Regions from separate parts of the Homo sapiens genome. Here region 2 is linked to region 1. The links come from fine-mapping of genetic effects on gene expression. A gene starts in region 1. The other region holds a variant in brackets. All regions are shown on one strand. Distances are from middle to middle. Region 1 holds the start of TXNDC12 (thioredoxin domain containing 12). Region 2 overlaps TUT4 (terminal uridylyl transferase 4).

What was found. PIP is the estimated chance that this variant, and not a neighbour inherited with it, causes the effect.
Region 2: its variant is the best candidate, but not a certain one, in a credible set for the expression of TXNDC12 in tibial artery (GTEx, PIP 0.60).

Annotation. Positions count from the first base shown.
Region 1 is chr1:52,052,858-52,056,857 of GRCh38, reverse strand. It overlaps TXNDC12 (thioredoxin domain containing 12), which reads left to right and starts at 1,667. Exons shown (of 7, transcript NM_015913.4): 1 at 1,667-1,858. The coding sequence starts at 1,762. It overlaps BTF3L4 (basic transcription factor 3 like 4), which reads right to left and starts at 563. Exons shown (of 6, transcript NM_152265.5): 1 at 479-563. RefSeq lists enhancers at 1-359, 360-1,073 and silencers at 139-378, 1,239-1,643.
Region 2 is chr1:52,481,824-52,486,354 of GRCh38, reverse strand. TUT4 (terminal uridylyl transferase 4) reads left to right here. Exons shown (of 30, transcript NM_001009881.3): 10 at 4,432-4,531. Among named protein-coding and RNA genes, the nearest start is that of TUT4, 69 kb to the left of the region's middle. The variant T/C (reference allele first, on the strand shown) is at 2,027.

The DNA.
Region 1 (4,000 bases):
TTGTAAACAAACACTGCCATTACAAGGTGAAGAGTGCTGTAACTGAGTTCGGTTCCCTGGACTCAAGGGCGGGAAGTGGTAACCTCAGCTTCCCTATCTGTAGACTGGGAGCATCAAATGAGATGACAACAGAGAGCCTGTATAAAGCTCAAAGCACACAACACTGCTGTTGTGAGCAAGGAGTAATGGAACAGAGGAGGGGCGTCCACCTGCCTCCTGGGACAGGGTCTGGGCGGCAACAGGGCGGGCCCGCTCGCTCCCACAGGGGGCGGTGGTGCTGGGGACCTTCCCACAGGTGCCGACCCCCAGCTGCGCCGCCGGTAACCGACAGGCCAAGCCAGCCGCCTCCGCCCCCGCTCGCCGCACCACGGCGGAAGTGGCAGCCTGAGCGGTTGGCGGGTGTCGGAAGGGGAGGGCGGGGGGAGACCGTGCGCAGCGGCCTATGGCCGTGAAGTGGCGGGACCGCCGGGGGTCTCACCTGAAGCAGGGAGGGTCCTCCAACACCAGCACGCGGCAAGAGAAAGATGGCTGCCTCAGCCGAGACAGAGAAAGACGACGGCGGCGGCGGCGGCGGCGGGAGCAGATCCACGTGATACAGCCGACCCCGCCTCTCCCTCTCCGGGGCAGCCTATCCCGGGAGCGAACATCTGAACTCCAACGCCCCGCCTGCTTTGCGCATCCCTCTTAGTGCTAGTGGCGGCAGGTGCAGGTGGCCGCGCGGCATCCTGGGGCTTGCAGTCTCCCGAGCGTTCTGTTGTGTCCCTGCCTACAATTTTAGGGAACCTAATAAAAGGGTGGTCGGTATGTTTTTATTTGGGTGTGTACTTTTGTTAGGTCGCTTTTTCGCTATGCATTAAGTACGGACTTTAGGACTCAACTAGTACCAGGAAGAAAAAGACCGGACATTTTCACCTGTTTGTTATACAGCGAAGGGGAAAAATTGGGAAGAAATCCTCAAGCTACAAGAAAAATAACCAGAAGCTTTACACTTTAGCCTGCAGTGACTTATATCCTGGTGTCCTAAGTCCACCTAAGTCAGTTTTGCAATAAGAGGTCCCAAGTTTGGTTTTCTTGGAGCTTGCATCAGTTGGTTGCATCATCCCTGAGTAGAAGATTTGCGGTTGCAAGGAAAAATAAGGTACAGAGCTTCTCCAGCGGGAAAGTGCATGTCTGCACGGCACGAGCCCACGCACCGCAGAACAGGCTTGCCAGGTCTCCTCAGAGACCCTCGCAGGAACCTAACAATGAAATCCAGTTGTCCAGTCTTGATTTGTGGAGGGGTAAGGAGAATCCGAGGCCAGTGGGCAATCCGCCCACTGTTGGGAGCGACTGACCTCACGAATCAATAATTTGCTTTTGACTAGGAAGTGCAGCGGTTCTTGGGGGGAGGGGCTGGACTGGGTGGCGGACGCGAGGAGCAACGGTTCTCCCGAACCTCTCCCCCGCCCCTACTATCTTGGCCTACATTTTCCCGCTCCGTCCCGGGACCTGGACACCCAGAATCCACGAAAAGCAACTCGCGCTCGAGAACAGCTCTCGTACCCTTCTACGTGATCTGCACCTTTAAGCTCACTCCATCCCAAACCGGACCCCGGAGGCACCACCCACATCCGTCTAACATCACTTCCTTCAGAGTTTGAAAAAAAAAAATCTGGGAAGTAGAGGTGTTGTGCTGAGCGGCGCTCGGCGAACTGTGTGGACCGTCTGCTGGGACTCCGGCCCTGCGTCCGCTCAGCCCCGTGGCCCCGCGCACCTACTGCCATGGAGACGCGGCCTCGTCTCGGGGCCACCTGTTTGCTGGGCTTCAGTTTCCTGCTCCTCGTCATCTCTTCTGATGGACATAATGGGCTTGGAAAGGGTCAGACCGCGTTCTTATCTTCTCTTTACTGATCTTTACTATACTGATCCCAGTATAATCTCTTCTTGCCCTAGCACCGTTCCCCTCCCATTCTAACTCTTAGGCCACTCCAGATTTCTTTTTATCTTCCCCAACCGCTCCTGGAGTTTGAAGATTTCTTGGGGTAGAGAGTAGCGGGTCTGGGGAATGGAGAAGTTGTACTTGAGGCCTCTCTAAATTATTGGATTGGGGGGAAGGAATGGCCCGTAAATTAAGGAAAGCATGTTAAGAGCCCAGCATAGTGCCTAGCACTTGGGAGGTCCTGAGGAACGGTCACCTTCCCACCTGGGAGAAATAGAGCCGTTGGGGACCTGCATATGCAGAGGACCCTGTTCTGGGTCTGAAGATTTCTCTCGTTACTTCTTCCGCGAAGAGCTAGGTTACTGCCACTTGCTTGCCTTTGGGAAACAGCACCTGCATCCCAGGTAGCTGTATCTAGTGCATAAGAAGAGCCAAGCGAATGGTAGAAGGTCTGCTGTTTAAGGGTCCCCAACAATTGTCCTTGCTGTGGTTCAGCGAAGTTTTTTTGTAAGTGAGCGATCAGTGGTTATGAATGGAGGTTAGGAGGTGTGGCCCCCTACTCCATCCATTACCTACATCTCCATTCTAAGTTTTAACACCTCTCTCCTCATCAGCCCTTACTTAGTTGAAAGTTGGACTGACAGTCTGTGAACTCAGAGTTTATGCTTTTCTAAGTAGATGAATTGTAGCATGGATCCCAACCCCTCTTCCTTTTTTTTTTTTCACTGACCTTACTGTATGGAATGATTCTGCTGCAATCCTTCTGTTTTTGTTTTCTCTTATCCTCTCTATTTTCACATCTATTGGTGAGTAATAAGATTGGGTGGGCATTCATTTTGCCTGAATGCAATCATTCCTTCATTCCGTAAATAATTTTTGATCACCTCCTATATTTCAGGCACTGTCCTAGGCACTAGGGATATAGCTGTAAACAGGACAGACAAGGTTCCTACTCTGGTGGAGCTTATATTCATGTCAGAGAGACAGAGTAGACTCATGAACAAATTAATAAGACAGTTTCAACTAGGAACAAGTGCTGGGAAAACAATAAGACTGTGATGGAATAGGAAGTAGAAAGGCTGGGGAGGTTGGTGGAGCTGGCATCACTTGAATTATGAAGGTCAGGAGAAGCTTTTTGGAGAAGGTGATATGTGGGTTTCCATCTCAGTGATGAAACTGCATGACAAATCCTGTTAGGCCAGAATGTTTTAAATACTGACAATCCCATTTTAAAACAGACTACCGTTTTTTTTTGTTGTTGTTTTGTTTTGTTTTTTAGACAGAGTCTCACACTGTTGCTCGGGCTGGAGTCCAGTGGCATGATCTTGGCTCACTGCAACCTCCGCCTCCTGGGTTCAAGCGATTCTCCTGCCTTAGCCTCCCGAGTAGCTGGGATTACAGGTGCCTGCCACCACGTCTGGCTAATTTTTTGTATTTTTAGTAGAGACGGGGTTTCACTATGTTGGCAAGGCTGGTCTCAAACTCCTGACCTCATGATCTGCCCGCCTCGGCCTCCCAAAGTGCTGGGATTACAGGCATGAGCCACTGCGCCCAGCCAGCTACTGTATATTTAAAGTTGTAAGTACTGAGAGTAACAGAAGAGTAGAGTGTTGGGTACGTGGGTTTAGATCTGAGTTTTTTCTTTGCTGTTTTTTCTGTTTGTTTGTTTGCTTTTGTTTTTGAGACGGAGTCTCACTCTGCCAGGCTGGAGTGGAGTGGTGCAATCTCGGCTTACTGCAACTTCTGCCTCCCGGGTTCAAATGATTCTCCTGCCTCAGCCTCCCAAGTAGCTGGGACTACAGGCATGTGCCACTATGCCCAGCTAATTTTTTTTTTTTTTGTATTTTTTTGTATTTTTAGTAGAGATGGAGTTTCACCATGTTGGCCAGGCTGATCTCAAACTCCTGACCTCAGGTAATCCTCCCTCCTTGGCCTCCCAAAGTATTGGGATTATAGGCGGGAGCCACTGCGCCAGGCCTAGATCTGAGTTTTAATTTGTTCTGCCACTCACTAGCTGAGTAGCCTTGGGCAAGTTTCTTAACTCTCAAAGCCTCCGTTCCTCATCTGCAAAATGGGCATCAT
Region 2 (4,531 bases), 430 kb before region 1:
TAACTCTAGGTGGCAGAACTCTTTAGCCTTATCATCAGTACATTATTAGTCAAGTTACCTGACTTAGAGCCACTTGTCGTGGTTAATGTAAGAATTGCATTTTAGCACTATTTGTCATCTGAAAGAGATATCTGGGTTTTAAGAGCTCTCTCTTAAACTGCTTTAATCTTGTTTATCTGTGAGATGTCTGGTAATGTTAGCAGAATATATTGACAGTTCTTTATAGTTGCAAAGGAATTTTTGGTTAAGTTGACTTATTCATTAGGCAGTTTACCCTTGTCTTAATATTTTGGATAAGTGAGAGTTTATTCTAGTGGAATGTTTCAAATTCTTTTTTGACAAGTGTTTTTAGTTGTCTTTTATTTTGAGTTGCAATCTTAAATGTACCAAGATATTATGCTACGGTATAATTACTCTATATTATTATTATTATCCTAAATCTTCATTGTCTACAGAAGAAAACAATGATTTAAAAATGAATCCAACCAATCCAGTATAGACCAATCGTATATAGATGCTACAATCTAAATGAAATATAAGCAAATGAAATATATCCATGTATCAAAGGTTAATATGCCATGATCTTGCATGATTTACTTCAAGATTATAAGAATGGTTTAATATCAGGAAGTCTGTTCACATAATTTATTATATTAACACATGAAGCAGAAAAAAAAATCCTAGATGCTGAAAGGGCATGTTCTCCCTAACAGAAACTTTTAAGTCAGCTAGAAATGGAAGTTTATGATGAAAACCATTTATTAAAAACACACAAAAAACAAAGGCAAAACAATAAGAAACATCATTTAAGCCATATATGTTAAGATAAAGAATATTGCAGAGAAGTTCACCATTGATGTTGTACATTGTTTTGGGATTTTAGGAAATGCAATAAGAAAATGAAATAATTGAATGTAAATATTGGGAAAAGTATAAAATTATCTCTTTGTGCGAATGATATGATTGTACACCTAGAAAACCCTAGTAAAAAACTACTAGGATTAATAAGAGAATTTAGTAAGATAACTAAATACAAGATAAATATACAAAAGTGAATGGCCATTCTCTGCCATAAAAATAGCCTGTTAGAATGGAAATGGGGAAAAATGTGTACCTTTATGACAGCAACATAAATTATAAAACACTAAGGAAGAGATTTAATAACAAAGATATAAGAAGAAATTATATTATTGAAAGATGAAAGCAAAATCTGAACAAATCCATGCATTCAGCAAACATTCGTTAAATGCCTTCTGTGTGTCAGACACTGTTCTAGAGGCTGGGAACATCTAACAGGACATACAGAGTCCTGCTTTCATGGTGCTCACATACTTCTGGAAGAGTCAAACAGTAAAGAAATACATAAATAATAATATCTGCTAGAGCTTAGTGCTACAAAAATGAAATGATAGAATGAATGACATTACTCTGAATGGTCAGGAAAAGACTCTGAAGAGATGATATTTAAGCTCAGACGGGTAATAGCTAGCCACATGAAAATCTGATGGAAAACTCTCCAAGGCACAGTTAGTCCAAAGCTTCCAAGGTGGGAATGAACTCAGGAGGAGCAAAAAGGAAGGCTGTAAAACTGCTTTAATCAAGAGTATGCTATTGGCATAGAAATAGAAAAATAGATCTGTGGAACAGAATAGAATGCTCAGATGATCTAGTGTACAGATTTTATTAAATAGTGCTTTCACAACTGTATCTTACTGGAAGAAAATAATGTTGGACTCAGCATGCTAAATGCAAAAATAAATTTTACTTAAATGAAAATTTAAAATTTTAGAAGAAAAATGTAGGAGTATGTATATGTAAATAATGGGATGGGGAGATCTTTTACTATGATAGGATACCTAGAAGGTGTATAGTTGTCCTCAGTATCCAGTGGTAGGGGGATTGGTTCCAAGACCCCCAAGGATACCAAAATTTGAGGACGCTCAAGTCCCTTATACAAACTGTGTGTTATTTGTATCTAACCTTCACATAGACTCTAACATACTTTAAGTCATCACTAGATTACTTA[T/C]AACATCTAATACAGTATAAATGCTCTGTAAATAGTTGTACTGTATTTTTTAATTTGTATTTTTTATTATATTGCTATTTTTAGTTTTTAAAATTTAACATTTTAATTTTTTTCAGAGACAGAGTCTCACTCTGTTGCCCAGGCCAGAGTGCAGTGGTGCCATCATAGCTCACTGTAACCTTGAACTCCTGGGCTCAAGGGATCCTCCCACCTCAGCTTCCTGAGTAGCTAGGACTACTGGTGTGTGCCACTGTGCCTGGCATATTTTTGTTTTGTTTTGTTTTGCTTTTTCAAGAGGCAAGGCCTTTGCACCTGGCGTTTAACAAATTTTTCAATTATATATATTTTTAGAGACGGAGGTCTTGCTATGTTGTCTGGGCTGGACTCAAACTCCTGGACTTCTGCCTCTGCCTCTTGAGTAGCTAGCTGGGACTACATCAGCTGCAGGTGATATGTGTCCATCACCACACCTTGCAATAAATAAATAAATAATTTTACTTAATGAAGAAAATGTATATATAAATTTTTTGATGGGGTGTTGCCCAGGCTGGAGTGTAGTGGCGCAATCTCAGCTCACTGCAACCTCTACCTCCTGGGTTCAAGTGATTCTCCTGTCTCAGCCTCCCGAGTAGCTGAGATTAAAGGTGCCTGCCACTGTGCCTGGCTAATTTTTGTATTTTTAGTAGAGACAGGGTTTCACTATGTTGGCCAGGCTGGTCTCGAACTCCTGACCTTAAGTCATCCACCCACTCTGCCTCCCAAAGTGCTGGGATTACTTGCATGAGCCAGTGTGCCCGGCCTAAAAAATATTTTCAGTGTGCAGTTGATTGAATGTGCAGATGCAGAACCCATTGATATGGAGGGCTGAGTGTCTGAAATAAGCATATTTAAACTAAAGCATAGTGAAAATAAAAAATTTTATATGGTAAGATATAAATAATATCAAAAGAAAAATAGTAGATTGGGAAAAATAACATCTTTCAAATGCATATATCAGACGTAAAGGGTTATTATCTATAATTAAAACTCTTATAAATTGATGTATTGGATGAAAATAGAAAAACTGGCAAAATATTTAATAGGCAATTTAGAAAAGAATAAATCCCAAATGGTTAGTAAACATACACAAATTTCATAATCTCTTTAGGGTCAAGGACATGCAAATTAAAGTAACCATCAGATACTACATTTCACCCATCCCATTGAAAATTATTGAAAATTATTTTTTAAGTGATAATACCTAGTGTTTGAAGGGGTGTATGCACAGGATAATACCTAGTGTTCGAAGGGGTGAACACACCTGGGTTCCTAGTGGAAAATACGAATTTTTGTAGTGATTTTGGAAAAACGATTCTTAACAATATATTTTAAGATTAAAATATATCACTCATTTTTTAATTTAACAAACATTCCTAGGCATACAGCTCATAGAAATAAGCACCAATACTTAGGAAACATGTATAAGGATGAACATTACAGCATTATTTGAAGTGGCAAAAACTGGGAACAAAATGTGAATGTTCTTGAATGGGGGAACTGTTACGTAACCATCCATATCATAGACTATAATTTAAGCATTTAAAAGAATGTGTTGGCTGGGCATGGTGGCTCATGCCTATAAATACCCAGAACTTTGGGAGGCCGAGCGGGGAGATCTTTTGAGCCCAAGGGTTCGAGACCAGCCTGGGCAACGTAAGTAAAATTTGTCTACAAATAGTCTACAAAATAAAAAAAATTAGCTGAGCATGGTGGTGCATGCCTGTAGTCCCAGCTATGTGGAAGGATCACTTGAGGCTGGGAGGTTGAGCCTGCAGTGAGTCATGATCATGCCACTGCACTTCACCCTGGGCTACAGAGCAAGACCCTGTCTCAAAAATAAAATAACGTGTTAGATCTTGCTAACTGACTTAAAGGGACTTTCTTGATATATTGTTAAGGGAGAAGAGTAATATACAGAGAGATGTCTATAATATACTATTTTGGTAAAATAATGTTGAAAAACTTAAACTTCTCCCTATACCTATATAGGAAATAGAAATGTATGTGTATTTGTATATGAGTATAGAAAAAGGCCTAGAAGAAGACATAGAAGGTTGTTAATTGAAGTAGAAGTAGAGGCAAGATGAAAAAATATTTTTAAAATGTGTCCACAGTAAAATAACTACATGTAATATTATTCCTTTTAACAAAAATATGTATCTTTGTATGAATTTTAAAAAGAATGAAAAAAATGATCATCAACATTTTAATGGTTATTTTAGAGTGATGATATTTCAAGTTATTCCTTATATTTTTCATTGTCATTTGAACTTTTTACAATGATTAGGGTAGGAAAAAGCAAGCTACTTTTATCATGAAAATTAAGAAAGCTAAATGGTAGTACTTTTTTCCCCTTCATTTTGCAGTTGTGCTATATTGACTCCCAAACTGATGGTGGAATCCCTTCTTACTGTTTTGCTTTAATGGTGATGTTTTTTCTACAACAGAGAAAACCCCCTCTTCTTC